Homo sapiens: one gene and its partners. Each later gene encodes a partner of the first gene's protein in a complex. Each region holds a gene or a part of one and is shown in the gene's direction. Other genes may lie near its edges. The genes, in order: NCAPH, NCAPD2, SMC4 and NCAPG.

Region 1 (6,881 bases):
GGCAGATCACCTGAGGTTGGAAGTTCGAGACTAGCCTGACCAACATGGAGAAGCCTTGTCTCTACTAAAAATACAAAATTAGCTGGGCATGATGGTGCATGCCTGTAATCCCAGCTACTTGGGGGGGCTGAGGCAGGAGAATCACTTGAACCCAGGAGGCAGAGGCTGTGGTGAGCCGAGATGGCGCCATTACACTCCAACCTGGGCAACAAGAGTAAAATTCCGTCTCAAAAAAAAAAAAAAAAAGAAAAAAAAGGCATTTGCTTGGAGGCCAAAACGAACGCAAAGCCATTTCAACTATATGCCTACTAAGTCCCAGTGACTTGATGGTTTCTATCACAGACTACATCATTATATAAGCCAGCTGCAGGCTGGAAAGTCAGGGCAAATTTGAAGCCAAAAGATTGCTTGTTCAGGTAGCCAATGGATAACACTATTGTTTCTCACCTAAACTAAGGCAGTTTCCCATTTATTTGGGGGAAGTAGAATCTCCATGAAGAGTAAAATGGGGTGGGGAAGGAAGACGACACCAGCTCTGCTTTTCTGGCAGCCTAGGATTAGTGGAGGAACCTTAACTACTTTACTTTTGCACAAACAGAGGTATTGAGCTTTGTACACCACTGAGATCAGTGATAAATCATTCACTCTTCTTTATTTATTTATTATTATTATTTTTTTGAGATGGAGTCTTGCTCTGTTGCCCAGGCTGGAGTGCAGTAGCACAATCTCGGCTCACTGCAAGCTCCGCCTCCCAGGTTCATGCCATTCTCCTGCCTCAGCCTCCCGAGTAGCTGGGACTACAAGCACCCGCCACCATGCCAGGCAAATTTTTTTTTTTTTTTTGTATTTTTAGTAGAGACAGGGTTTCACTGTGTTAGCCAGGATGGTCTCGATCTCCTGACCTTGTGATCTGCCCACCTCGGCCTCCCGAAGTGCTGGGATTACAGGCTTGAGCCACCGCGCCCGGCCAAATCATTCACTCTTTTGGCACCCTTCATAGTCCTAAAAACAAAACAAAGATGGCATTCAGAGCAGGAGGTGAAAGACCTGCCCGCATAAGGCAGCCCTGGCCCAGAGAGACACTGGGCATGGAGCTGGCTTTGCCTTCCTGCACGTGAAGCTGGAAGCAGCTCAGGTGGCTCCATTATTCCCACAGAACAGCCTCAAGGCTCACCTAGTGGGTCACTTAGTAGCTTTCCTCCCCCAGGGCTTCCAAGCTGTTCTTCAGAGGCTCCTGATTCAGTGTATCACCTAACCCTTGCTACTCTTATGTACACATGGAATCCAGAGGATCACACTTGTCCCAGTGTCCTCCCTCAGATGCATTCAGCAGAGAGAACAAGTGAGGGAGATGACAGGGACCCCAGCATATACTGACCAAGTCCAGTGCGGGGATAGTGCCTTCCCCATTTTATAGACGGGGAAGAAAATGGGGCCCAGAGAGGTTAACATGCCCAACCCAGGATTTAAAATTGTCTTCCAGATGTACTCATTGAATACATATTTAAGTACTTGCTATGTCCAGGGCCAGCACCAGGCCATGGGAAAACCATAGTGAACAGATATGGCTTCATCCTCATGGAGCTGACGGTCTATGTAGGAGACAGACATGAAATAGTCACCCTAGTGCATGGAAAATTGCAGCTGTGACAAGTTCTCCTGAAGCCTCCAGTATGGAGAGTTGTGTGTATCAGGGAAGGTCTCCTTGAGGAACCTGAGGGGAGTAGAAACCTAACTGGAGCTACGGGGGTGAAGATGGGGATGAAGAGGATCCTAGCTAGAGGAGTGTGTGTGTGCAGAGGCCTGGGGGTAGGAGCAGGTGTGATGAGAGGAATCTGAAAAAAGGCCAGGGCAGCTGGAGGGCAGGGAGCAAGGGGAGCAAGGTCCCTGAGGAGGCTGGAGAGGCTGCAGGGGTGGGGAGGCTGGCAGGAAGACCCTTCCAGGACCTTGTAGGACGCTTAGAGGTTCCCAGGGTGGTGGAACCCCTGAAGTGTTATACTTCCGGGAGGAAGTGGTGGGGGACAAGTGGGAGTGACAGCTCAGATTTGGACTCCGCATACACTACTCAGGGCCTGAGGGGGGGCCAGAGCAGGCCAGTGAGAAGGTAATGTGGATGGAAGGAGAAAGGCAGGATTGGCAATTTTTAGGAGGTGAAAATAGCTTGCTTGATGATGGATTGTGTGGGGAGAGAAAGGGAGGGAATCCCCCAGGATGACTCCTGGGTGCTGATTTGGGTTCTTGGGTGGCTGATGGTATCATTTGCTGAGATAAACAGTGTCAACCTGTTTTCTCTAACCCACACAGCCTTACGCTGAAGATTTGAAGGTGGTCACTAGAAGAACAAGTTTATACGAACAACAGATAGGCTTAAAAAGTGGTTTTCAGCCAGGCGCAGTGGCTCATGCCTATAATCCTAACACTTTGAGAGGCCAAGGCGGGTGGATCACCTGAGGTCAGGAGTTCGAGACCAGCCTGACCAACATGGTGAAACCCCATCTCTACTAAAAATACAAAAATTAGCTGGGTGTGGTGGTGGGCGCCTGTAATCCCAGCTATTCAGGAGGCTGAGGCAGGAGAATCGCTTGAACTTGGGAGGTGGAGGTTGCAGTGAGCTGAGATCGTGCCATTGCACTCCAGCCTGGGCAACAAAGCAAGACTCTGTCTCAAAAAAAAAAAAAAAAAAAGTGGTTTTCAACAAAGGGTGGCACTTTTTGATTGCCAAAATGAGCGACAGCACTGATGGCATTTAGTGGGCAAATGATGTTACGGGGGCTTAAGAGCCCACAAAGAGGGCAAACATCCTATCATGCCAAGGATTGTTTCACCCTGAATGCCAACAGTGCCCTTGAAGAGAAACACTGTAAAAGATGCCAGATATGAGAGTTACAAGAAATTCTAGGATGTGCTGGGGATATTCCAGGGAATCACCCTGGCCTTTACTCCCATAATTCAATCCTTAGGGTTAGATGAAACTGAGGGGACAGATGGCATTTTATGCTTATTTCGCTTTTTCGACCTTTATTTATTTTTTGAAGGGTGGGGGGTGTTCACAGGAAGCTATTCACAAGAATCTGAATAAAACGATGGCCTTCATCTTACACTATATTAAATGTACATTTTGTACTATATTTAATGTATACATAGCATTTCTGCATCAGTTCTTCCCCACCTGGACCGCTCCTCATTCCCACGTAGGCTCCCGCTCCCCTCCGTCCCTCTTCCCGGAGGTTTTCAGCGTTTTGCTGCCCACACAGCACAGATCTCTAAGGGAAATAAACCTCGTTTTCTCGATCATCTGCCTCCCCATTATAAAGTAAATTCCACGGGCTGAGCGCGGTGGCTCACGCCTGTAATCCCAGCACTTCGGGAGGCCGAGGTGGGCGGATCACCTGAGGTCAGGAGTTCGAGACCAGCCTGGCCAACATGGTGAAACCCCGTCTCTACTAAAAACACAAAAATTGGCCAGGCGTGGTGGCAGGCGCCTGTAATCCCAGCTACTCGGGAGGCTGAGGCAGGAGAATCGCTTTAACCCAGGAGGCGGAGGTTGCAGTGAGCCAAGATCGCGCCACTGCACTCCAGTCTGGGGGACAAGAGCTAGACTTCGTCCCAAAAAAAAAAAAAAAAGAAAGTAAATTCCACGAAAGACGGGCCTTGCTCACCCTGCTCGACGCTGGGTTCCCAAGCCCAGTCCTGCACCTAGTCCTCGAAGGAGGGGGTTTTCATACTATTTCAGGGGGTCCACCGACCCCAAGAAGCCCAATCAGACGGGGTCCTCAACCCAAAACTCACTCTGACGCCGCCCGCGGAGGCCCGAGGTGGTCTGCGCAGGCGCGCTGCTGGCCCGGCCCGCCGGCGACGTCACGCGGCCGTTACGGCGCTCAGGCGTCTCGACGCGCGCGATTTAAAACCAGCTCAGGAGACGCCAAGGAAAGATGGGACCTCCCGGCCCAGGTGAGCCGGGCGGTCGGGAGGCGCGGCGGGAAGGGCCCCTAGCGAAGCAGTACTTCGGGCGGGCAGGGCTGGCGGGCTGGCCTGGGCGGGGAGAGAGGATATGCTCAGCTCGGGTCTTGGCCCTGCGGCTGACAGCAGAGGCCGGTGCGGGGGGAGGGGAGGGCCGGCGCGGGGCGGGCGGACCTTGTGCGCTCAGCCAATCAGAAAGCGGCTTCGGCCGGAGTCGGAGAGCGCGCGGGCCCTGCCTCACACTCCTCAGTTCCCGGGCGGGCGGTGGGGCGGCCTCCTCCTTGGGCTCCTAAAGCGTGCTCGGTGTCTCTCCATTAAAATGGTGGTTTTCCTGGAATAGACGTTATTTTCAGGGCTTTGGAAGCGATGTGGTTACCGTTGTATGCTTAGCATGCATGCATTTATTTTTGCATCTATTCAAAAGTACTGAGCTCTCCCGTTGGGCGAACAAAATTGATAATATCTCTATACTGTTGGAGTTGGGGAGACAGACAGTAAACAAAAGAAATAATTACACATGAGGCTGAGTGCTGTGATTGAGTATAGCAGAGTAGGGGTGGCTCCGCCAGGGGTTCAGGGAAGATCTTTAGGCAGATACTAGGGAACGTGTTTCAGGCAGAAGGAGCAAGTACAAAAATGAGGCAGGGAAGAGCCTGGCCTGGCCTAGGACCTGACCAGAACATTGTGACCAAGCTTAGTGAGGCCTGACACGTAGGCAGGGTCTGGAGGCCTTGGGTAAGAGATTTGGAAATTGAGTTACATTTTGGACATGGTATGTGTGACTTACGGGAGAGACTCAGGTGAAGGGATCTATAATCACTTAGGTGAGAATTTGGCTCTCAGGGGAGTTATATGGACCACTCAGGGAAGTGACCCATGGATTGAGAAATAAATTTGGATACCATTATCATATAGACCATTAGACCATAAAACCATGGGAACAGGTGAGAACACTAGGAAGGCCCTGCACATCTAGGACCAACGTTTAGAAGCTGGATAGAGAAGGATGAGCTGGAAAAACTCAAAAGACAGTGGTATAGGAAGAAGCCAAGAGTGTTTCAACAAGGAAGGGACTGTCAGCTGTTTCAAATGCTGCTGGATTCCAAGAGAAAGGCCAGAAAATGACCATAGGGTTTAGGCAACATGGAAGTTATAGATGATCACGAAAAGATAGTTCTCATGAAGTTGGAATAGGAACCAGACCAGAGTGGGTTGAAAAATGAGTGGGAAATGAGGAAGTAGACATAGGAAGTGTCTTTGAGCTCAGTAACCATCGGTTGAATGAATGGATGCATAATATCAAAGGCAAGGAGAGAAACCACGGAAAGAAGATTTGGAGAATTAAAGCATGCCTCTAATTCCAAGTTTAGTTTCTCTCTTAGACAAGGTTCTCCTTAAGTGCTTCCTATTTCTGTTAAGGTATCCTCTCCAAAGGTCCAGGTTCCTTCCTTAGCCTGTAGCCTACTGTGCTCACATCCAAATACTGTCCTCATAAGTCCTCTTGATTCAGTTTCTAAAAATGTCTCTTGCCTCCTCCCTTCCTATTTTTACTTTGTTGTTTTTTGTTTTTTGTTTTTTTTGAGACGGAGTCTCGCTCTATCGCCCAGGCTGGAGTGCAGTGGTGCAATCTCGGCCCACTGCAAGCTCCGCCTCCTGGGTTCACGCTATTCTCCTGCCTCAGCCTCCCGAGTAGCTGGGACTACAGGCTCCTGCCACCACGCCCAGCTAATTTTTTGTATTTTAGTAGGAACGGGGTTTCACCGTGTTAGTCAGGGTGGTCTCGATCTCCTGACCTTGTGATCTGCCCGCCTCAGCCTCCCAAAGTGCTGGGATTACAGGCATGAGCCACCGCGCCCGGCCTATTATTTTTTAGAGACAGGGTCTTGCTGTGTTGCCCAGGCTGGAGTGCGTGGCTATTGACAGGTGCTGTCCTAGCTCACGGCAGCCTTGCTGAGCGCAAGCAGGCTCAGCTTCCTGAGTAGCTGGAACCACAGATGCCTGGCAAAGTACCCCACTTCTCAATACCACCTATATCTTTCTAATTCACTCTCTGGTTCCCTGACTCCAACAACCCTTTTTTTTTTTCTGAGACAGAGTCTTGCTCTGTCCCCCAGGCTGGAGTGCAGTGGCTTGATCTTGGCTCACTGCAACCTCTGCCTCCCAGGCTCAAGCAATTCTCCTGCCTCAGCCTACCGAGTAGCTGGGATTACAGACATGCGCCACTACACCTTGCTAATTTTTGTATTTTTAGTAGAGACGGGATTTTGCCTTGTTGGCCAGGCTGGTCTCGAACTCCTGACCTCAAGTGATCCTCCCACCTTGGCCTCCAAAGTGCTAGGATTACAGGCATGAGCCCAGCCTTGTTTTTACTTCCTATTTTATTGAAAAAAAAAAAAAAAAAAAAAAGCAAACAAAAAGGAACATCCCCAAGTCTGCCATTGCACCTGCTCCCTGCCTGCATCTGTGCCAGTGCCTCTGTCTTTTCTCCTGTTACTGAGGATGGGCTTTCTGTGCTCTCTACAAAGGCAACCTCTTTGCCTGCTTGAGTACATTGTTCAGCAAATTTTACCTTTTATTTTGGATGGTCACTGTGATAGGCTGAATAACACTTGCCCTAAAGGTGTCCAGAACCTGTGAATATGTTATCTTACGTGGTGAAAGAGACTTTGCTCATGTGATTAAGTTAAGGCTGTTGAGAAGACTATCATGGATCATCTGGGTGGGCCCAGTTTAATCACAGTGGTCCTTGTAAGAGGAAGGTCGTCGGGGTAGAGTGAGAGCAGATGTGATGACAGAACAAGAGGTTAGAGTGATGGGGGGACAGTGAGCCAAGGAATGTAGGCAGCTCTGAAGCTGCAAAAGGCGAGGAACAGATCCTCCTCTCAAAGCCTCCAGAATGAATGTAACCCTCCACAGCTGCA
Region 2 (7,654 bases), on another chromosome or scaffold:
TGAGTAGGTGGGATTACAGGCATGTGCCACCAGGCCCAGCTAATTTTGTATTTTTAGTAGTCAGGGTTTCTCCATGTTGGTCAGGCTGGTCTCGAACTCCTGACCTCAGGTGATCCGCCCACCTTGGCCCCCCAAAGTGCTGGGATTACAGGCCTGAGCCAGCATGCCCAACCAACATTCTTTTCTAAAGCATGTTGGTCAGAAGCAGTCCACCACGGAGGGGATGAACAACAGTATACAGTCATGGTCTTTCATCAGGGCTATGTTAATTCTGTTCTCTGTCATGATGTAATCTAAAAAATGTGGACCATTTGCACATTCTGCAGAGTATCACATTGGTCCACCATCTTGTAACTTTACATCCTTCAGACGTCTTTTTTTTTTTTTTTTTCTTTTTTTAAAGACAGAGTCTCCCTCTGTTGCCCAGGCTGAAGTGCATGGTGCAATCTCAGCTCACTGCAACCTCTCTGTCTCCCGGATTCAAGCGATTCTCCTGCCTCAGCCTCCCGAGTAGCTGGGATTACAGGCACACACCACTATACCTGGCTAATTTTTTTGTATTTTTAGTACAGACGAGGTTTCACCATGTTGGCCAGGATGGTCTTGATCTCCTGACCTCGTGATCCGCCCACCTAGGCCTTCCAAAGTGCTGGGATTACAGGTGTGAGCCACCGGACATCTTTTAAGTAGAATGAAGACTACTTAGAGGTAGGAACCAACCCTACCTTGGTGATTTTTGTTCCTCCAAATATCTTTGCACATAATAATTCAATATTTATTCAAAGAAAACGTTATATACTGTTTCATACCACAAACAAGATTGTTCTGTCCTTGAAAACAAAACCTTTTGTATCTTTGAATCAGGAAATATTCTATAAATGCCTATTGACCTATTAATTTCCTCTTCCCTAACAATCAGATACTCTACCAGGATATGTAGATATCTTCTTCAGGGCACCTTGCACTTAGCAGAGTCCCAAATATTTTATTTTCTCCACTCTAGCACCACCAAATCATGTAAAGTATACAGCCACTCACATTTCACATCAACTTCTCCATTCTTATGCATAGCTCCTTCCAGCCACCCCTCTGAAAACTGACTCTCCTAAACATTTCCGTAAGACCCAGGATCATGTTTTCATATATACCCATCAATCCATTTATCCAAAACCCACTTGTAATTTAACAAGTGCTTTTTATTTTTATTGAAGATGGGGTCTTGCTATGTTCCTAAGGCTGGCCTCCAACTCCTGGTTTCAAAGGATCCTCCCACCTCAGCCTGCAGAGTAGCTGGGATTATAAGTGTGCTCCAACCACCATGCCCCGCAACAAGTATTTATTAATCTAACTTCACTTTTATGGAGTTTTTGTTTTTTAAAATATAGAGATGGGGTCTTGCTATGTTGCCCAGGCTGGTCTTGAACTCCTGGCTTCAAGCAATCCTCATGCCTTGGCCTCCCAAAGTGTTGGGCTTACAGGTGTGAGCCACTGCACCCAGCCCTAACTTCACTTTTTTTTTTTTTTTTTTTTTGAGACAGTCTCACCCCAGTTGCTCAGGCTGGAATGCAGTGGCATGATCTCAGCTCACTGCAGCCTCAAACTCCTGGGCTCAGGTGATCTTCCCACCTCAGCCTCTTGTGTAGCTGGGACTGCAGGCACGCAGAACCATGAGTAGCTGGAACTACAGGCATGCAGAACCATGCCCAGCTAAGTTGTTTTTTTTTTTTTTTTGAGACAGAGTCTTGCTCTGTTGCTCAGGCTGGAGTGCAGTGGCACGATCTCGGCTCACTGCAAGCTCCACCTCCCAGGTTCAAGTGATTCTCCTGCCTCAGACACCTGAGTAGCTGGGACTACAGGTGTCCGCCACCACTCCTGGCTAATTTTTTTGTTTGTTTGTTTTTGTATTTTCAGTAGAGACAGGGCTGTGTTAGCCAGGATAGTCTCGATCTCCTGAGCTCGTGGTCCGCCCCCCTCCGCCTCCCAAGGTGCTGGGATTACAGGCAGGAGCCACCGCACCCAGCCACTTTATTTTTAGTAGAGACGGAGTTTCACCATGTCGCCCAGACCAGTCTCAAATTCCTGTCTCCAAGCAATCCTCCCACCTCAGCCTCCCAAAATGCTGGGATTACATGTGGGCACCATTCTGCCCAGCTGTAATTCTTAAAAATTATTATTAAAAAAGAACAAAACACATAGATGCCCTAGACTCAACTCAGCTCTACTGATCAATCTTTAGGGGTTAGGACTAGGCTTTTGAAATGTTAAAACACCCAGAAAACTGATGACCAGTCAGGCTTAGTATCCGCCATCTCTACCATTCATATGGTACTTAATGTTTCATATTTAAATGGAAAGGACACCTCACACTTTTTTGTTTTTCCTATAGTTCCTACTCAGAGAATATGCCTAATAAATATTTTATGAGAGTAGTACAGAAGTATGACTCCATTTTTCTCTTATATTTCATTTCAGTGTGGAAGGCTCTTTAGAAACACTATTAACATAACAGCATTATGTCAAAAAGCGCCAATAACATTCTCACCAACTTTTCTTTTTAAAGGAATTAGGTATAGCTAGACTGTAAAAGGCAAGTGGTGTGAAGCCCAAACCTAAGATCCTAAGATCTAGGATGAGTCAAGACTTCATAGTCTACATGAGTAGAGGCAGCATCTAGAGGAAAACAAAAGTATGTGGCTATCAAATTCCAAAGAAGCCCCATTTTATTACAGAGAAAATACAAAGCCGTTTCCTCACAGGGAAAAGTACAGTTTCCCTTCTCCAGGGTGACAGATGAGCCTTTTCCGAAGTTCTCAGCTTTCTCTTCTATCGAAACTTCCCATGTCGGTTAAAGTGTTTGTAGAGATAGCGGATGCGTTTATTAAGGTTGTGCAGGTCATCAGCGAACATTCTACTTCCAACCATTTTCCTCTTTCGGATACAACGTTGCAATTCATTCCCTTTCCAACCTCGAAGCCATATGGGCCCCCTGATCAGTTCTTTGGGGTGCTTTTCAAAGTTTCCTGTGTAATGTGAGAGAACACATTAGATCCAAGACAAGAGAACTCATCCTACACCAGCTAAGCTTTCAACCCACGGTTGCATCTTGCTGAGCAGCACCTATAGACAAGGAACATTACAGTACAGAACAATAGCACAGACTCTGGAGCCAGACTGCTTGGGGTTAAAATTCTGATGCTGCCATTTATTAACTTTGGAAAAACTGTTTATTTTTACTTATGAAGTAAAAATTATACGAGGGGACTCAGAACAGTGCCAAACACAATGTAAACAGCTACATAAGTGTTTGCTCTTACTATTGAGCACAGTACCACTCTCTACACAGGAGGAAAAGATAGTCGTTACAGCCTAATTGCCATTCTGAAATTGTGTACCACGTCGAAGGTCAAGTCTTACCCAGGATCCCGATGTTGTCATACACTCCGAACATGGCCCTTTTCTCGTTCCAACGATCAACCACTTTGGGGGGCGGGAGAGTGAGCCTTATACCGATCAATCTAGGCACACCTGGGGATGGGGAAGGGAGGGAATTAATCTGAGCCGCCTATTATACTACGAAGCAGTTATCGGGGTGCCTACATCAGCCACTTACCAAGAGAGAAGCTTCTGCACGCCAGAGGCACCCAGTCCCACAGGCGCCTACCTGCCCCGGATAAGAGGTTCCCTGCCATTTCTCTAGTCTCCCCCCTTCAACAGCACACCAAATAAGCCCAAGAAGATGACAGGAACCGTCCCCGCCAACTTCACACGAGTACTAAGGCGAAGACAGCCATCTTGGGCCTTACCCAGGCAGCTGTGGGCGCACCGCCCACCTACGCCCCATCCGCAACAGCCACGAGCCCCGCCCCCCGGGTTCCGGCAGGAGGGGCCTCTACCACCCTTCCCGCCTCAGTGCTTCCGGTCCGCCTGCCGGAAGTTTTGGAGCGCCGGACAAGCTGAGGTCCGCGACTCGTCGCTAAGATTCCCCAAAACTGAGATTTCAAGAAAATTCACCCTTTCCGCTTTCTTTGGCGTCCTTCAACCGTGAAGGAAATGAAGGTTGAGAACCTGGAACCCGCTTCCAATGACCAAGCCCTTTCTCTGTGCCTCACAACAGTCTTCCGCTGTAGCTGTTTTTATTACCCCTATTTTACTACTGGGGAGGAGATTTGAGGTCCTGAAAGTGAAGTGACTTGCTGGACGTCACTTAGCAGAGGAGATGGCGAAACCTGGATTAGAGGCGATGCCTTCTAACTCCCAGCGTGGACTTGCCTCCTTTCCTGGGGGTGACTGAATGCCCAGCCAGGGACGCGACGTCTCTGGCCAGCAGAAATACGGCCTCCTCCCCGCCGACTGGGCAAAGGGGGACCTTGCGGCCAAGGAGGGATTCGCAGGCGGGCCGGGGGTGGGAGCGGGGGCCGGAGCCGGAGCCTTGGCCCGCCCCCGGGCGGCGCTGTGATTGGCCGGCCGCTCCGGCGGGCGTCGCGATTGGCCGTCCTGCAGCCGTTGAGATTTGAACTCGGTATTTGTGGCTTTGCCCGCGCGTTGCCAGACTCAGAGGCGGCCCTTTGCCTCTGCCTGCCGGGGATTGGCCGGATTCTCCGCCGACTTGAAAACTGCCTTGCTAATTGGTGCGTGTTGTGCACGCGTGTTTTTTCCTTTTCATTTCAGCCTGACTGCCGGAATCAGAGCCGCGGGTGAGATCCCCAGGTAAGATGTGGTGTTGCAGGTCGTAAAAGAGTAGGAAAGTCGAGTACATGGCAGTGTGACCCAGTCTTGGGCAAAATACAATAGGCCTAGTAAGTATATCCCTGGGGCGCGATGTGTGAGAAACTGTAAGTCTGACAGATCCGCAACGGAAGTTGTTAAGCAAATCGCTTAACAGATCCGCAACGGAAGATGTTAAGCAAATCGCTTAACAGATCCGCAACGGAAGATGTTAAGCAAATCGCTTAACTTTCTTACTTCAATTTCCGCTCTGTAAACTCATTTGTATTATTATGCACCTCATGGGATTGAGGTTAGGATACTTAGATCAGATATGATACATGCAAACAGCCTAACAGACTTGGCACAGGATAAATAAATCATCATTGTTAATGCTCTTACCATTCTGGTGCAGGAAGCCCACTAGCCCATGCTGGGGCACTGTTTTGGCCTCAGACGAGATCAGACCATTCTCTCTATACTTAAGGAGCTTTGCACATAAAAATGGAAATAATAGTACTTTGCACATTAATATGCCACTTTATAGTTCTTTAAACACCTTCGTACTGCTTGATTTGTTTGATCATCAGAGCAACTTTGTGAAGTAATCAGAGTTTAGTAACCCTGTTTTTACAGATAAAGCCCAGAGGTTTAAGTGTCAAGACCAAGTGCCAAAGTCACTACTAGAATTAGTTTCTAGTCCAGGGTCAATCTCAGATCCCGTAAGATAATGTTACTAGCTTGCTATAAAACTAAAAACCATTATATATGTTGGGGGTGGGGAACTAACAAAACCAGATGATGTTACTAGCTTGCTATAAAACTAAAAGCCATTATATATGTTGGGGATGGGAAAGTAATAGAACCAGATACGAAGACAGGTCTTGAATATAGACCCTGACTTTTTCACTGTTTGGTTTCTAGCCCTGTGAGCCTGTAGGAGTAGAATGGCTCCCCAAATGTATGAGTTCCATCTGCCATTATCCCCAGAGGAGTTGTTGAAAAGTGGAGGGGTGAATCAGTATGTTGTGCAAGAGGTACTGTCCATCAAACATCTTCCACCACAGCTTAGAGGTAAGAGTCCATAGCTGTCACTGTACCTAGCTCTTTCAAAGGACCATCTCACATGGAATTGCTACATTGTCATTTCTGTTCCACTACACCAGGAAGCATCATAAGAGCAAGAAACATGTTTTTCCTATTTTGCTGTTTTATCCTAAAATTGCATGGGATGCATGACCCAAAGAGTACATTCATTAACTTCCTTTTCTGGATTAGTCAAAAACAGTCTTGGTGTATGTGATTACTCTTTGGGGAAAAGTTATTTTCCATCTTTACCCCTTACTGTGTGTCAAAATTAAGTCCTGGTGGATTTAAGAGTTATAGGAGTGGATCGCTTTTTCAGAATGTCTCGGACTTAACTCGACCTGTTTTTGGTAATACCTTTTTGGAGTCTTTTTGGATGTGCAATTATGGGGACAAAAACCCATAATATATATGTACCACTGCAACACTGAGCAATATATGTACAGTGCAGTCACCTACTGAAACCTGTAAATGATCAAAAGCACCTTTTGCATTACCAGAAAGACTTCATAATGTCCTTGTACTTGTTGGGAGCGGTCTTGTAGCAGTTAGCTTGCTTTGGAGAGGTATAGAGATTAAAGACTGGAGCCAGGCTGCCTGGATTTGAATCCTGGTTCTACCACTCTGACCTTAGACAAGTTACTTAATTGTCTCAGTGCCTTGGTTTCGTCATCTGTAAATATAGAGATAATAACCAATTCCTTTGTTATCACCTACAAGAAGAAGGGTTGGTTAATGCAGCAGCTCGACAATATGGTCCTAGCTTGTCTCCTCTTGGCTTTTCTTTCATGGTTGCTAGATTGCAACTTCTTTTTGTTTTTCTTTTTTTTTTTTTTTTGAGACAGGGTCTCACTCTGTTGCCCAGACTGGAGTGCAGTGATGCGATATCGGCTCACCACAACCTCTGCCTCCCCAGGCTCAAGCGATTCTCCTGCTTCAGCCTCCCAAGTAGCTAGGATTACAGGTGCACGCCACTACCACCTGGCTAATTTTTGTATTTTTAGTAGAGACGGGATTTCACCATGTTGGCCAGGCTGGTCTTGAACTCCTGACCTCACATGATCCACCCACCTTGGCCTCCCAAAGTGTTAGGATTATAGGCGTGAGCCACTGCACCAGTCTAGATGGCAGCTTCTTCCTCTAATGTCCAGAAGTGGAAAAAGGAATTTTCTTTTTGTACTTTTTATTCTTTATTTTATTTTGAAAGACAAGGTAAAGACTCTCTTGCCCAGGCTGGAGTCCAGTGGCATGATCACGGCTCACTGCAGCCTCAACTTCCCAGACTCAAGCAATCCTCTCACCTCAGCCTCCCAAGCAGCTGGGATCACAGACATGCACCACCATACCTGGCTAATTTTTAAATTTTCTGTAGAAACAGTGTCTCCCTATGTTGCCCAGGCTGGTCTCGAACTTCTGGGCTCAAGCAGTCTTCCCGCCTCAGCCTCCCAAAGTGCTGGGATTGCAGGCTGGAATGCAGTGGCCTGATCACAGCTCACTGCAGCCTCAATCTACCAGGCTCAAGCAGTCCTCCCACCTCAGCCTCCCAAGTAGCTGGGACCACAGACATGTACCAAAGTGCTGGGATTGTAGGCATGAGGCACCATGCTCGGCCAGACTTTTTTGTTAAAAACTAAAACACCTACACACATTAGCCTAGGCCTACACAGGGTCAAGGTCACCAAGAAGTCACTAGACGATGGGAATTTTTCAGCTGTATTATATTTTTATGACACCACTGTCGCATATGTGGTCTATTGTTTACCAAAATGTTACAGGGCACAGGACTGTACAGGTAAGAGAAATAGAATTACCCAGACTGGTTTAACTGATCAAGCTTATTACCTAGGAGCCTCCCTAAACTTGA
Region 3 (7,000 bases), on another chromosome or scaffold:
AATACAGTACCTTGATTATTATATATGCCACTCCTAAGCGTGTTGAATCATCATATTTTGTTGCCACCTGTAAAACCTGGAGCCACACTAAGCGCAGGTTAATGTCTCTTTTGTTTTTGCTTCTATAGCTCTTGTGTAATAGTTAAAAGCTGTGGCTCTTGTTTCAGTTCTTGGTTCAAATCCTAGGTCAATCACTTACTGTCTCTGTTCTTGTGCCGGTTGTCATATCTCCAAGTCATCTTCCTTAAAATGAGAAAGAATATATCTACTTTGTGAAAATAAAGAATAAATATATCTATATAACGTACTGAGAAAGAAAATAAATGTTAGCTATAATTTTAGCATTATATTAATAAAACGAGAGCATGAAGTTGTCACATTGATATGTATTATCTACCCCAACAAGAGTAAGCATAAAATTATCTTTGTTTGTATGTACCACAGCATTTTTGACAGTGCTAAGCATGTTAAATACCTATGTTAATGGATAATGGTAATTGACTGCATTAAAAAGTCATGGTAGAGTCTGCTTTGGCATATCAACATGTTCTAATGTCAAACTATAAAACTTAACAGGTTAGAATACCTGTGTGATGAAGTGTCACTTAATAGAGTCTGCTTTGGAATATGGACATGTTCTAATGTCAGATTATAAAACTTTACAGGTTAGAATACCTGTGTGATAAAGTGTCAATGGATAATGCAGTAGCTTTCATGATGGGATACTTCATAGTTAGTGGATTTTCACTGTTTGCTTATTTAATATATATTGAGTACTCATGTGCCCTGCACCCCATGTTAATGACAAAGCTAGGCCTCAAATGTCTTTATTCCTCAGCGTAATGATCGATCTCACAAAGCTCTTGTGAAATCAGTTGGGAAAAGACTATGTACAGTGAATATTGACAACTAGGCAAAAACTGAATCTAGTCCACTTGTGAGAATTTCTTATTTCTATATACTGTGCTTATAGAATCTCCTTTCTTAAATCGAATATAAAATGTATGGTTTCATTTCAGTGTAGGTTTGAAAGTAAATATCTGTCCAGATTTAATGAACTCATATTTTAACAGAGTCGAGAGAAAGAACTTATGGGTTTCAGCAAATCGGTAAATGAAGCACGTTCAAAGATGGATGTAGCCCAGTCAGAACTTGATATCTATCTCAGTCGTCATAATACTGCAGTGTCTCAATTAACTAAGGCTAAGGAAGCTCTAATTGCAGCTTCTGAGACTCTCAAAGAAAGGAAAGCTGCAATCAGAGATATAGAAGGAAAACTCCCTCAAACTGAACAAGAATTAAAGGAGGTAAATCTTTGCTTCTCTGTTGCATCAGAACATCATTCGTCCACTTCAGCTTTATACATTTTTGTTTTTAATCTCCGCGTCAGAGGTGACTAGTGATAAATTTTCTTCATTTTGTATAATCTCAAAAGAATGAGGTCAGCATTTCAGTATTCCATATGTGAACTGAGACTATCAAGAAACTATATTATCCCCAGAAGCACCATATAGTAAGTAAATCACCACCACCACCCCACTGTAGAAATAATTTAAACAAAAGAAAGTTTGTGTTTCTTTAAATCTTAAGTATAGACAATTTAAAGATAAATAAAAAACAAGTGTATATGTATTTATATAATGAATATACAAACAACTATCTTAATGTGTTTTGGGTTTTGAATTTATGGATGTAGTTTCTTTGCTTGCATTCCAAAATGTTATAAACTAACTAAGATGTATAGCTTATCGGTGCCTGTCCCCCATCCTTGAGTGAATTAGATGTCTAAGGAATTTCGTAAACTTTAATCTCCAAAGATCTCCAAAACCTCAGTAGGCAAGGTGGCAATAAAAAAAAAATCTGTTTGAAGTGTAATTATACTGAAAATAAATATGAGTCTTTTTCATTTTAGTTAATGCATGCTATTTGGTCATCAGGGAATTTCATGACCAGGTAGAATTTAAATGTAAATTAAGTTAGATCCAGTGACTGCTTCTGTCTTCCTGGGATTCGGTTTCTTTTGGGATGAATTATGTCAGTAACTTGGTTTAAACTTTATGCCAGTACAGTAAGTAATAGACATAATTTAAATCTAGTGGATGGAGGAATATACCAGTTAGAAAAGATGGCTGCTGAGAAGTTGGAGATTGAGAAACAGAGGTTGTGTTTATGTGTGCATGTTTGTGGTTCCTTTCTTGTTGGGAGCCTGGCATTTTTGTATAGCAATAGGACTATCCAGTCATCTTTCGTTTCAGAGGTGTGCTTTTTCTCCAGTACCCCCCAGCCCCGTTCAGCTAAAATAAAGCACAGCATAACCGTAGTCCTGCCCAGTCATTTTCTGGGTCAGCTTTTCATTAGGGCAGAGCTGAAGAATTAGGGCACACTTATGTATAACTATGTAGTATCAAACTGGGATTTCCACAGCCCCAGCTATACTTCTCTATCAGGATGAACTGTTTGCTCCTGAAAAAAATATTACACCTAATGTTTTCTTTTATTGACCCAAGTAATTTATGCCCCTTTTAAACCCATCCATATTTTCCACAACCAAACCAGCAATTGCCATACAGGTGCTCAGTTTTGGTTCAAATTTTTATTGTTGGTCTTTCTTTCTTTATTGTTATTAAAGCATTACAACTAATTCAGTGCTATGACTGGTCATATTTAGAAGTTAATGCTTCTGGATTTCATTTTATTTTCACTTTTAGAAAGAAAAAGAACTTCAAAAACTTACACAAGAAGAAACAAACTTTAAAAGTTTGGTTCATGATCTCTTTCAAAAAGTTGAAGAAGCAAAGAGCTCATTAGCAATGAATCGAAGTAGGGGGAAAGTCCTTGATGCAATAATTCAAGAAAAAAAATCTGGCAGGATTCCAGGAATATATGGAAGATTGGTAAAGTAGATTTTTGGGGGGCATGGCTTTACTTTTTTTTTTTAAGAAAGTGTAACTTATTTTTTTGCCTTGACAACCATATTTCAAGTGTCACTGTATATAAAATAAGATTCATTTTGTTTGTTTTAAGGCACATTTATTTTTAAACATTTTGCCCTTACAGTTTCTTGTTTACTTAGCTTTAGATAAATACAATTATTTCATACATATCAAGAAAAATACTAGTAATGTCACACAAACTTAAAACCATTTTATCCTTTTTTTTAAAAGAGAGACTTTAGCCAGGCACAATGGTGTGTGCCTGTAGTCCCAGCTGTTGGAGAGGCAGAGGCAGAAGGATCACTTGAGCCTAGGAGTTCAAGTCCATCCTGGGCAATATAGCAAGACTGTTTTTTAAAAAATGAAAATTAAAAAAAATTTTTTTATATATTTGGGGTTTCACACCATTTTACTTAGGTTTGGGCTAGCATTTAAGGATATAACAAGGGATAATCTAAAAATCCAAGGCTAGCAATAGTGAGGACCATTACTGCTTCTTAGCTTCGAGGGAAGGGAGTTGTGGTCCAGAGGAGATGGGGAAAATGGATACCTTAACCCCACCTATTTCCTGCCCTCCAGTCTTAGCTGAAACCTCAAATTGGCTGAAGGTGGAGAGTCAAAGGAGCCAGTTGATGCAGTCCTTAAGTCAGCCTTTCGGAGAAGGGAACAAATTGATGTAAAAATTACCCAACATGATTGCTTCTGCATCTTGTATCGGGACTTCCACCTTATTTTCTTAAAGATAAACAGTTTGATCCTATTCATTTGCTCTCAAAGAAAGCCCAAACCAGTGAATACTGCTAGATAGTTGTGTAATAGATAAACAGATAAATGTGTTTCATCAGGATTTACATAATTTTAGATGCTTTTCAATAATTCAAAGTTTTCTGAGTTTTGCTTATAGTTCATTTAGGTTTTAAGCTTCATGTTGTTTTCATAAAATGAAAACAGTTCTTTCATTTTGTGCTCATTAGAAATTCAAGCTGCATATTCATAAACTTATACATATTTTGTATTTTGTTGTGTACCCTTTTGTTCTCTTTAAAACCATGTCTACATAAAGTTTTTCAATTAAAAGAAGTTTTTAAAACTTGATGAATGAAATGGTCCTGTGCTTTTCTGCCTAACTCTTTTTTCACCCCACTCTTCATTATTAGGGGGACTTAGGAGCCATTGATGAAAAATACGACGTGGCTATATCATCCTGTTGTCATGCACTGGACTACATTGTTGTTGATTCTATTGATATAGCCCAAGAATGTGTAAACTTCCTTAAAAGACAAAATATTGGAGTTGCAACCTTTATAGGTTTAGATAAGGTGGGTATTCGTAATAACCTACCTATAATTGGAATTTTTTTTTTTTGAGACGTAGTCTCGCTCTGTCACCCAGGCTGGAGTGCAGTGGCATGATCTTGGCTCACTGCAAGCTCCGCCTCCCGGGTTCACACCATTCTCCTGCCTCAGCCTCCCGAGTATCTGGTACTACAGGTGCCCGCCACCACACCCAGCTAATTTTTTTGTATTTTCAGTAGAGAGGGGTTTCACTGTGTTAGCCAGGATGGTCTGGATCTCCTGACCTTGTGATCCGCCCACCTCGGCCTCCCAGAGTGCTGGGATTACAGGCGTGAGCCACCACACCCAGCCCTATAATTGAATTTTTAAGTGCTAAGTGTGTTTTTCTTTTTGGATTCAGGCTTTTTCTTAATGGTTACTCAGTGAACACCTGATGGGTTTTGACGATTATTTTATGTTCTGGGGTTATATGATTATAAAAAATTGTTTGACATTTGCAGTGCCTCCACTAAAGGAATGTACATTCCAGAGTTAAAAGGAAAACCTTTATTGAGATAATTTACCTACAATAAAATTTATCATTTTAGGCCAGGTGCGGTGGCTCATGCCTGTAATCCCAGCACTTTGGGAGGCCAAGGCGGGCGGATCACGAGGTCAGGAGTTTGAGACCAGCCTGGCCAACATGGCGAAATCCCATCTCTACTAAAAATACAAAAATTAGCTAGGCATGGTAGCAGGCGCCTGTAATCTCAGCTACTCGGGAGGCTGAAGCAGGAGAATTGCCTAAACCTGGGAGGTGGAGGTTGCAGTGAACCTAGATTGCGCCACTGCACTCCAGTCTGGGTGACAGAGTGAGACTCAAAAACAACAAACAAAACAATCATTTTAAAGTATGTAATTTGGTGGGTATTAGTATATTCACAGTGTTGTTCACCCATGACCACTATCTAATTCCAAGATATTTTTATCACTCCCAGAAAGAAACCCCATAGACAGTAACAGTCGCTCCCTATACCCCTTCACCCCCTCCGTAACACTAACTACTTTTTTGTTTCTGTAGATTTATCTACATATAAATGGAATCATACAATATATGGCCTTTTTATACAGCTACATTTACTTAGCAGGTTTTCAGGTTCATCTATGTTGTAGCATGTATCAGTACTTCATTCCCTTTTATTGCCAAATGGTATTCTGTTACATCATTTTGTATAACCATTTGTCAGTTGATGGACATTTGTGTTTTCACTTTTTGTGCTTTGGCAATACTTGTGCTACGAACATTTGTGTACAAGTTTTTGAGTGAACATGTATTTTCAGTTCTCTTGGGTATATATATACCTAGGGTAGAACTGCTGGGTCATGTGGTAATTCTATGTTTAACTTTTTGAAGAACTGTCAAGATTGTTTCCACAGTGGCTGTACCATTTCCCACAAGCATGTGTAAGGGTTCCAGTTTCTTTACATCCTCGTTAACACTTGTTATGGTACATCTTTTTGATTATAGTCATCTTAGTGAATATGAAGTGGTATCTCATGGTTTTGATTAGGATTTTCCTGGTGATTTATGATAGTAAAAGTCCTTTCATGTCCTTGGCCATTTGTTATCTTCCTTGGAGAAATGTCTGTTTCAAATCCTTTGCCCATTTTTTAATTGGTTTCTCTTTGTTGAGTTGTAGGATTTCTCTATTCTGAATACAAGTCTCTTGTGAGATATGATTTACAGATATTTTACCCCATTCCTTGGATTGTATTTTCACTTTCTTGATGGTATCCTTTGAGGCACAATTTATCTTTTTTTTCCTTTGGTTGCTTGTGTTTTGGGTATCATACCCAAGAAACCACTGCCTAATCCAAGGTCACAGTGATTTGCCTCCTTTGTTTTCTTCTAAAAGTTCTATAGTTTTGGCTTTATATTTAGGTTTTAATCTATTTTGAGTTAATTTTATCACGTGATATAAAGTAGGGCTCAAACTACTCTTTCCATGTGGCTATCCAGTTATTCCAACACCATTTGTTGAAAAGATTCTTTACCCCATTGAATTTTCTTGGCATCCTTGTTGAAACCACCCAACCATTAATGTAAAGGTTTATTTCTGGGCTTTCAGTTTTATTACTTGTGCTGGTATAGGACACTGTCTTGATTATTGCAGCATTGTAATAAGTTTTAAAATCAGGAAGTCTGAGTCCTCTAATTTTGTTCTTTATCATATTGACTGTTCTGGGTCCCTATAATTTGTATATATGACTTTTAAGATCCAGATGGTCAATTACTGCCACAAAAAAAGGCGAGGAAGTAACTGGGATTTTGATACAGGTTGTATTGAATTTGTAGATCAGTTTAGATAGTATAGGCATCTTAACGGTATTAAATCTTTAGAACCACAAACATGAGATGTCTTCCGTTTAGGTCTAATTTTAGAACCTTTTGTGTATAATTCTTGTTTCTTTTGTTGAATTTATTCCTATGGGTTTTTTTTTGTTTTTTTTTTTGAGTTTTCTTTTTTGTTAACTGTTGTTTTTGTTTGTTTGTTTGTTTACTTTTAGATGGCTGTATGGGCGAAAAAGATGACCGAAATTCAAACTCCTGAAAATACTCCTCGTTTATTTGATTTAGTAAAAGTAAAAGATGAGAAAATTCGCCAAGCTTTTTATTTTGCTTTACGAGATACCTTAGTAGCTGACAACTTGGATCAAGCCACAAGAGTAGCATATCAAAAAGATAGAAGATGGAGAGTGGTAACTTTACAGGGACAAATCATAGAACAGTCA
Region 4 (7,447 bases), on another chromosome or scaffold:
TAGATGATAATTTAAAATACAGACATTCCATGCTCTTGGATGGAACAAATATCATAAAGATATCAACTTTCTCCCTATTAATTTATACAATTCCAATCAAATTTTTAAGGAACTCTATAAACAAACCTTAAAGTTTATATAGAAAGAATAAAATTCCACATATAGCCAAATGAACTGTTTAAACAGTAAGGGAGTTCCTATTCTTCAAGGTATGTCCTATGACTAAAGTCACAGACATTAAAATAAGGTAGGATTAGCATAAGAACAGACAATAGTCCAATAGAGCAGAATAGAGCTTAGAAACAGAGCTATATATAATTTGGGAATGTAATATAAAATAAGGTTGGCACATAAACTAAGGGTGAATGGATATGTTTAGTACATATTATTGGTACAACTGGCTCATTATATGAAAAAAAGTAAAACTGTATTGGAATAAGAATTAAGAAAAAATTAAGAACAAGGTTAAGAAAAAAATGAAAAGTAAAACCATTTAATACATATACATATAATGACATGTATAAGGGAGGATTCATGATGGATTAAAGACCTAAATGGGGATGGTAAAACTATATAGTTAGTTAAATATAATACAGAATATCTTTGTGAAATGAGGCCAGGGAAAGACTTCTTAAACAAAAAAGCATAAAGCACCAGACCAAAAAATGAATTTAATCACATCACAATTAATCATTTCTGGACTGAACTAAAGATACCAAGGACAAAGTTAAATCAATTTTTAAGAAAGCAACTTCAATAAAGAAATGAGCAATGGACAAAGATATCCAAATTATAGAAGAGAAAATCCCAAGGCATGAACAATATGATCACATTATGCTATCAGTTTGGTAGAATAAGAAAGCTGGATAACACCAAGTGTCAGTGAGTTCTTTTTTGGAACTGGCACTGCTGGTGGGATTGCAGAGTGGAGTAACTGTTCGGAAGAACAGTCCGGCAGCACTACTTAGGCAAACTATTTGCACATCTCATGATCTAGCAATCCTACTTTTGGGCATAGATAGCAAAGAAATTCCCGTATGAACAACATGTATGAAGATATACCCTGAAGCTACATCTGTGATGACAGGAATTAGAAGCATTCTAGGTTCCTATCGCTGGAGAAGCGGACTGGTAAAATGTGGAAACACATTCCAAGTATATACAGCAACATGGGTGGCCTTTAAAGGCATAGCTTTAAATGAGAAAAGAGACAATATCAATGTCTCGTTTATGCTACTCTGTAGGGGGGATTTCCAAAATCAAAGTCAGTGAACATTTTCATTATCGAATACACTGAGTTGTGCTAATAAGGTCATATGGTATGGCTTCAGGTCAGCAATTTTCCTCTAATGAGTATTTCTCTGGCTTTCACACACTCCTAGCACAGTGTCTGGCATATATGAGTGGCTCAGTAAATAAAAGAGTCAGAGAATGGCAAAGGCCTGCAGTAAGTAACTACCACAAGCATGTTCTATTTTACTCCAGGGAGAGAACAGTTCCAAGTTATATCTTGGTGATTTGGTAATGTTAGACAAAGACAAATGAGATAATTTTTTTAAGGCAGGATCAACATATATGATGCTACTACAGCAATATAAAGGAAACTGCTTATAACTTTAAGAAGAAACAATGTAATACTTCTAAGTTTAGATTATAGTACTATTACCTTGTTCAATCTGAAAAAGAGTATTCATTCTTTGTCGTGGACCGTAAGTCTTTATTAACTGAGACAGGAGAAGCTGTTGGCTTTTAATTGTGCTGTCCTCTAATATTTTTACTATTTTCACTTCAACCAGATTGCACCTGTGAGATTACTAATTGGCTATACTTCAGTTATTATGTTACTCAGAAAATTTTTAAAAAGGCTCTTACTTTCCCATAATTGTTTTTGTTCTGTTTCACAGTACAAAAGTCAGGAAAAATGTAAGCTTTAAGGCAGTATACTATGTTGTTTAAATTTAATCTAGCACCTTTGAAAAAATATTTTCAGATTATAATATCAAAAAATACTGAACCAATACCCCCATGGCTTTAACCATTAAAACAAAACAAAACAAAAAAAAAAACTAACCGAAATATAGTTAGGCTGACCTCTGGCGGCCAGATGTCTCATTCTTCTGTAACTGACAAAATGGTGTGATGTCTCTGTTGGTGAGACAGCCAAATAGAATATAGTAAAGAAATACTAGCCGGGCGCGGTGGCTCACGCCTGTAATCCCAACAGTTTGGGAGGCAAAGGCGGGTGGATCACCTGAGGTCAGGAGTTCGAGACCAGCCTGGCCAACATGGCGAAACCCCGTCTCTATTAAGAATACAAAAGATTAGCCAGGTGTGGTGGTGCATGCCTGTAACCCAGCTACTTGGGAGACTGAGGCGGGAGAATCGCTTCAACCCGGGAGGCAGAGGTTGCAGTGAGCCGAGATCGCGCCATTGCACTCCAGCCTGGGCGACAGAGCAAGACTCTGTCTCAAAATAAAAATAAAAAAATATATATTAGAAACGTCACAAAGCAAAATTATGGGCAACACAAATGTTACCACATTCTTAACTAGCAGCTGAATATCTACAAAGTTTGAGGAATTAAGCAGGAGAATGGATAAGGTATGGCATATTAATACAATGGAGTACTATAGCAACCTGTCTGTGCCGTAGTTTCCTCATCTTAAAAGAAGATCAAAGTTATCCTACAGGGTTTGTGAGCAGTAAACGAAGTAAAGTGCTTAGCATGGTGTCTGGCACATAATAAAGGTTAATTAAGTGCAAGTTACTATTATGAACATATCAATATGAACCACAGCAATATTGATTGAAAAAAGCCAGATGCACATATAATTATTCATTTAACGGTTAAAACATGCAAAATAGTACAATATCCTCATTCAGGGATTTATTCATGTCATTAATATATTAAAATATGTCATTAAGATATAGAAAGCTGCATGGTAAAAGTTAACAGTAAATTCAGAAAATCCATTACTTCTTCGGAGGGCAGGTAATTCAAAAGGAGAAAGATGTACAGGTGGCTTTAGTAATGTTCTATTTCTTCAGCTGGCAGTAGGTTACTGAGGTGTAGGAGAGGGAAAAACGGCTTCCCTCCATCCTCCTAGGTTCTTTGGCTGGGTTACAAATTAACCTGACATAGACATTAACAAGAAAAAAAACCCGTACTTAATTACATACGCAGAGGAGTCCCACCATGGTCAGATGATTGAATATTATACAGCATCCTACGCTACTCAAGAAATGGGGGCTTGCGGCTTTCTGGGGGATGGTGGCCACAAAGTTGTGGAAAGGTGAGGGGAGGAAATATACGGTGAATAAAAGTTGTCTTGGTATGCAGATAAGATCTCCCAGGTAACAAAAATTATCGCAGAGCTGCCCTCTTTCTGATACAGATCCTTTACTGATGTATATTTCCTCTGTAGATGTCAATTTCTTTTACAACAGGACAGATTTTCAGAGCGACTCCTGTGTCTGCATTTTATCAGAATACCAGCTCAAAATATACTCTAGAAGTATATTGTAGGGTGGCATATTTTGGTCTCCTACAGTCCTATTTTTGGATGGTGCATCCTGAGATCCAACAGAAGTTCTGTCTGATATAATTTCATTTAAAATTTAAAAACCTAGTTCCTACTCTTCTTTATTTTAACCACTACCCGAAAGACCTTTCCATTCTCTTGAGTTCTCCCTTAATACACTGTCCTTATGCACACTTGTAAACAGGGCCTACACAGCTGCACATCTAGAAACGGCAGCAGCTAAGTTAGCCCGCACCCCCCTTCGCAACGATCCCCGGACTGCCTGCACGCCCTGTGGAACCTCGCAGTCGGCTTCACCAGGGCAGGGACTAAGGCCTTCAAAAGACAGCATCCGTCTCCACTAACCTCGGGTCGCCCCGCTCAGCGGACCCAGCAGCGTCGTCTCCCTTCTCAGAGGTGGCCGGGCCTCCGGAACGCGCTACGAACTTTCCTTTGTCGCCGTCTCTCGAAGCGGAGCCCTCGTGTGGGGATCCCCCGCCCTTCGGCCACAAGGGAGGTTGTTATCCTCGGCAGATCTCCCGTTCTCACTCTTGGAGGATCGCTTTTTCTTTCTAGCCTCACGCTCAGCCGCACGACCCAGCCAGGCCTAACGCCAGCAGCCCTTCCCCTCCGGTGGCAAGGCCACTCCGCTCAGCTCCCGCGCCGACGCTACTTCCGGCCGAGTCAAGGCCCCTCCCCCTTAGAAACGCCACTTCCCTCCGTGAAAACGGCTGGACAAGGTTGAACCTAGACGCATGCGCCCAAAGCGCGGGGTGCGAGGTGGGTGGACCCATCGCTTCCCGCTCTCTTCTCCCAAAGCGCTTACGGCAGTCTCGCGGGATTTCCCCCTCTCGCGGGAATTATTTGAACGTTCGAGCGGTAAATACTCCCTGGGGCTGTCATAGAAGACTACTCGGAGAGCGCTGCCTCTGGGTTGGCGGGCTGGCAGGCTGTAGCCGAGCGCGGGCAGGACTCGTCCCGGCAGGGTTCCAGAGCCATGGGAGCGGAAAGGAGGCTGCTGTCGATTAAGGAGGCCTTTCGGCTGGCGCAGCAGCCGCACCAGAACCAGGCGAAGCTGGTGGTGGCGCTGAGCCGCACCTACCGCACGGTAAGCGCTCCCGGCCCCGGCCGCCGCCTCTCGCCCGCCCCGGCCCACCCTCCCTCAGGGGCCCTCCGTGGCCCTCGGGCTCGGCGCACCGTGACTCCAGCCTTGTTCACCTTCGCGACTCACTTCATAGGGATCTGAGGTTCGGAGAAGTCAGGGACTTACCCGAGGTCGCCTGGGCCCAGGCCAGAAAGCCTCCGAAGCCTGGGCGTCGTTCACACGGGCCCCGCCTTGGCTTTTCTGAGCCGACACCCCCAGCTTCTGGGCGGCGTGGACCGTTATTCCTTAGTCCGATCGTGAACGTGGAGAGAAACATTTACGACCACCGAGGCGATCAGACATCAAATATTGAACCGCAGAGTGGATCCTGAATGCGGGGGTTCAGTGGTCGTTGCCCCTGGGGTCATCGCTCCCCGCCGAACATCAAATGATTCTACCCTTGTCCTACGGTTACGTTGAATCCAATCACCAAATACCAAATTATTTTTAGGGCCTGGCCATTCTTATTTATGTACATACTATTTGTTTGTTTTGAGTGGAACCTTGAGAAGAATAGAACAATTAATTTGGGGAAGATGAATTATCTTGAGGTCCAAGAAAAATTGTGAGTAAACATCACAGGGCTTTGAGGATATGAGATAGGATGTGCAAGTTATCTCATAAAGAAACTGCTGGTGATAGGAAGGCCTGAATATGAGAAATATAAAAGCCAGTATTGATTTTGGGTTGTTGAAGAAGCGTATTTGTAACGTACTGGTACTAAAGGCTTATTGAGAATCAAAGATATTGAAAAAAATATATCAAAGGAATCTTTTCACTGTCAAAAGTCAAGCTTGTGTACTCCCATTATAGCCTGGAGAGAAATTCATGCAAATTGATTGCCCTTTGGCTGGTTTGGATAATTAAGAGTTTACTAAATAAATATTTTAATTTGTCTGCATTATTATGGCTAGTGCTTTCATCAGTCTTAGGGTGATGTTGGGAATAAAGGATTTTTATCGGTGCAGTTTATGAAGGGTTTCTTTTGTCTTTCAGATGGATGATAAGACAGTTTTTCATGAGGAGTTCATTCATTACCTTAAATATGTTATGGTGGTCTATAAACGTGAACCAGCTGTGGAGAGGGTAATAGAATTTGCAGCAAAGTTTGTTACCTCATTTCACCAATCAGATATGGAAGATGATGAGGAAGAGGAAGATGGTGGCCTTTTAAATTATTTGTTTACTTTTCTCTTAAAGGTACTATGAAAATGATAGCTTTGGGGAGGGATTTTAGAAAATTTTGCCACTTTAAAAGAGTCGTGGGAGTTTGTATGTTTTTGACAATGAAATATCTAGTGATTGAAAAAACCTGAATGAGTCTACCTTTCATAGGAAATATTAGAATTATCATTATGATTAAAAAGTGGACTTTAACTCCAGCATTAAATTTTTAATGACCTCTTTAAACCAGTTCTCCTTTGTTTATTTTAAATGAGTTCTGTATTTTAGAAGCCTCTACAAAGAGGACTATGTAACTTAGCAAAGACTTCTTTCAGACTGTTCATTTTGAGACTGTATAAAATATATATATTTGCTATACATATGGACCAAGGTAGCATTATAGGTTCTCTTCAGGAAATGAATTGTTGTTGTAACTTCTTGCATTCCGAATGTATAGAGTTCAGATAATATTGATTATTTGGGAGTGGTATGTGACTATGAATAAATTTTGATTTGTTTCTGTTTTAGTCTCATGAAGCAAACAGCAATGCAGTGAGATTTAGAGTGTGCCTGCTCATAAACAAGCTTTTGGGAAGTATGCCAGAAAATGCTCAGATTGATGATGATGTGTTTGATAAAATTAATAAAGCCATGCTTATTAGATTGAAAGATAAGATTCCAAATGTGAGAATACAGGCAGTTCTGGCGCTTTCACGACTTCAGGATCCCAAGGATGATGAATGCCCAGTGGTTAATGGTGTGTGTAGTTTCCTAAATCTTTTTTCAGATTTGTTGATTTTGTTAAATTCTCAGTATTTGAAATTTTTTATTATGGTCTATACATTTGAAGAGTATAGGTAATTAATATATGATTCCGATTAAACAAAAAAAACCTAAGTAGCAACCACCCAGCTTAAAAAAAAAAGTCAGTACTTGCATCCTATCCCAGTTGCATCCCTGTCCCTCAGAAGTAACTATTAAATCCTCAGTTTGGGGTTAATTAGTCTCTTGCTTAAATTAAAAAAAATTTTTTTGCATAAATCACATATGTCTATCTTAATGTTTTCCTGTCATTTTGTGTAAATCATGCTGTATGTATATATTTAGCAGCCAATTATATTTCTATATAATACCTGTTACTGTGTTTTGCCCATTTTTTCATTGGGTTTTTAATTTAAAATACTATTTTAAAAAATTCATTTGCATTCTTTATATATTTTGAAAAGAAATCCTTGGGTTATATGAATTGTAGATCTCTTCCTGTTTTAGGTGGCTCATTGGGGTATCATTGTTTCACTCCCTTTGGGGTATCTTTTTTTTGAACAGAAATTCTTATGTCAAAAATATAAATCTCTGCCATTATGATTCGTATTTTTTAATCTCTTTTTTAAGGAACTTTTTCTTACCTATGGGGTCATAAAGGTAGTTGTATTTCATTTTTCCATATATGCCTAGGTATGTTTTAGGCACTCTTCTGTCCTTTTTGTCCCTATTACCAGTTTTATAATCACTGGTATATTTATCACTATAGTAGTTGGTATTTTTTTTGGTGTTAAAAGATACCCATAATAATATTGTGTAAAACATAGGTATTTGATAGTCAACCTGTACTTAATAA

Evidence for each region.
Region 2: NCAPH (region 1) and NCAPD2 share a complex: the UniProt entries of both Homo sapiens proteins name them as parts of the condensin complex.
Region 3: NCAPH (region 1) and SMC4 share a complex: the UniProt entries of both Homo sapiens proteins name them as parts of the condensin complex.
Region 4: the proteins of NCAPH (region 1) and NCAPG are in contact, whole or in part, in a crystal structure (PDB 6IGX), measured with the Homo sapiens proteins. Residues at the interface, in NP_056156.2 of Homo sapiens: Glu471, Ile472, Asp473, Phe474, Glu475, Asp476, Asp477, Ile478, Phe480, Val482, Tyr483, Phe484, Arg485, Lys486, Thr487, Ala489, Ala490, Thr491, Ile492, Leu493, Gln501, Asn502, Trp503, Ala505, Thr506, Thr507, Leu508, Phe512, Tyr514, Val516; in NP_071741.2 of Homo sapiens: Lys11 (codon at 4,549), Phe14 (codon at 4,558), Arg15 (codon at 4,561), Gln18 (codon at 4,570), His50 (codon at 5,698), Tyr51 (codon at 5,701), Lys53 (codon at 5,707), Tyr54 (codon at 5,710), Val55 (codon at 5,713), Met56 (codon at 5,716), Val57 (codon at 5,719), Glu62 (codon at 5,734), Ala64 (codon at 5,740), Val65 (codon at 5,743), Val68 (codon at 5,752), Phe102 (codon at 5,854), Ser106 (codon at 6,358), Glu108 (codon at 6,364), Ala109 (codon at 6,367), Asn110 (codon at 6,370), Ser111 (codon at 6,373), Val114 (codon at 6,382), Arg115 (codon at 6,385), Ile149 (codon at 6,487), Arg150 (codon at 6,490), Lys152 (codon at 6,496), Asp153 (codon at 6,499), Lys154 (codon at 6,502), Arg159 (codon at 6,517), Glu188.

Annotation. Positions count from the first base shown.
Region 1 is NC_000002.12:96,331,898-96,338,778, forward strand, and holds the start of NCAPH (condensin complex subunit 2), read left to right. Parts: upstream 1-3,868; 5' UTR 3,869-3,932; coding exon 3,933-3,951; intron 3,952-6,881. UniProt on the Homo sapiens protein: Regulatory subunit of the condensin complex, a complex required for conversion of interphase chromatin into mitotic-like condense chromosomes.
Region 2 is NC_000012.12:6,489,448-6,497,101, forward strand, and holds the start of NCAPD2 (condensin complex subunit 1), read left to right. Parts: upstream 1-4,654; 5' UTR 4,655-4,707; intron 4,708-5,628; 5' UTR 5,629-5,651; coding exon 5,652-5,778; intron 5,779-7,654. Other genes in the region: MRPL51 (large ribosomal subunit protein mL51), read right to left, coding at 2,824-3,020, 3,415-3,525, 3,611-3,689. UniProt on the Homo sapiens protein: Regulatory subunit of the condensin complex, a complex required for conversion of interphase chromatin into mitotic-like condense chromosomes.
Region 3 is NC_000003.12:160,416,650-160,423,649, forward strand, and holds part of SMC4 (structural maintenance of chromosomes protein 4), read left to right. Parts: intron 1-1,073; coding exon 1,074-1,307; intron 1,308-2,708; coding exon 2,709-2,894; intron 2,895-4,090; coding exon 4,091-4,252; intron 4,253-6,775; coding exon 6,776-7,000. UniProt on the Homo sapiens protein: Central component of the condensin complex, a complex required for conversion of interphase chromatin into mitotic-like condense chromosomes.
Region 4 is NC_000004.12:17,806,560-17,814,006, forward strand, and holds the start of NCAPG (condensin complex subunit 3), read left to right. Parts: upstream 1-4,419; 5' UTR 4,420-4,518; coding exon 4,519-4,629; intron 4,630-5,661; coding exon 5,662-5,865; intron 5,866-6,357; coding exon 6,358-6,586; intron 6,587-7,447. UniProt on the Homo sapiens protein: Regulatory subunit of the condensin complex, a complex required for conversion of interphase chromatin into mitotic-like condense chromosomes.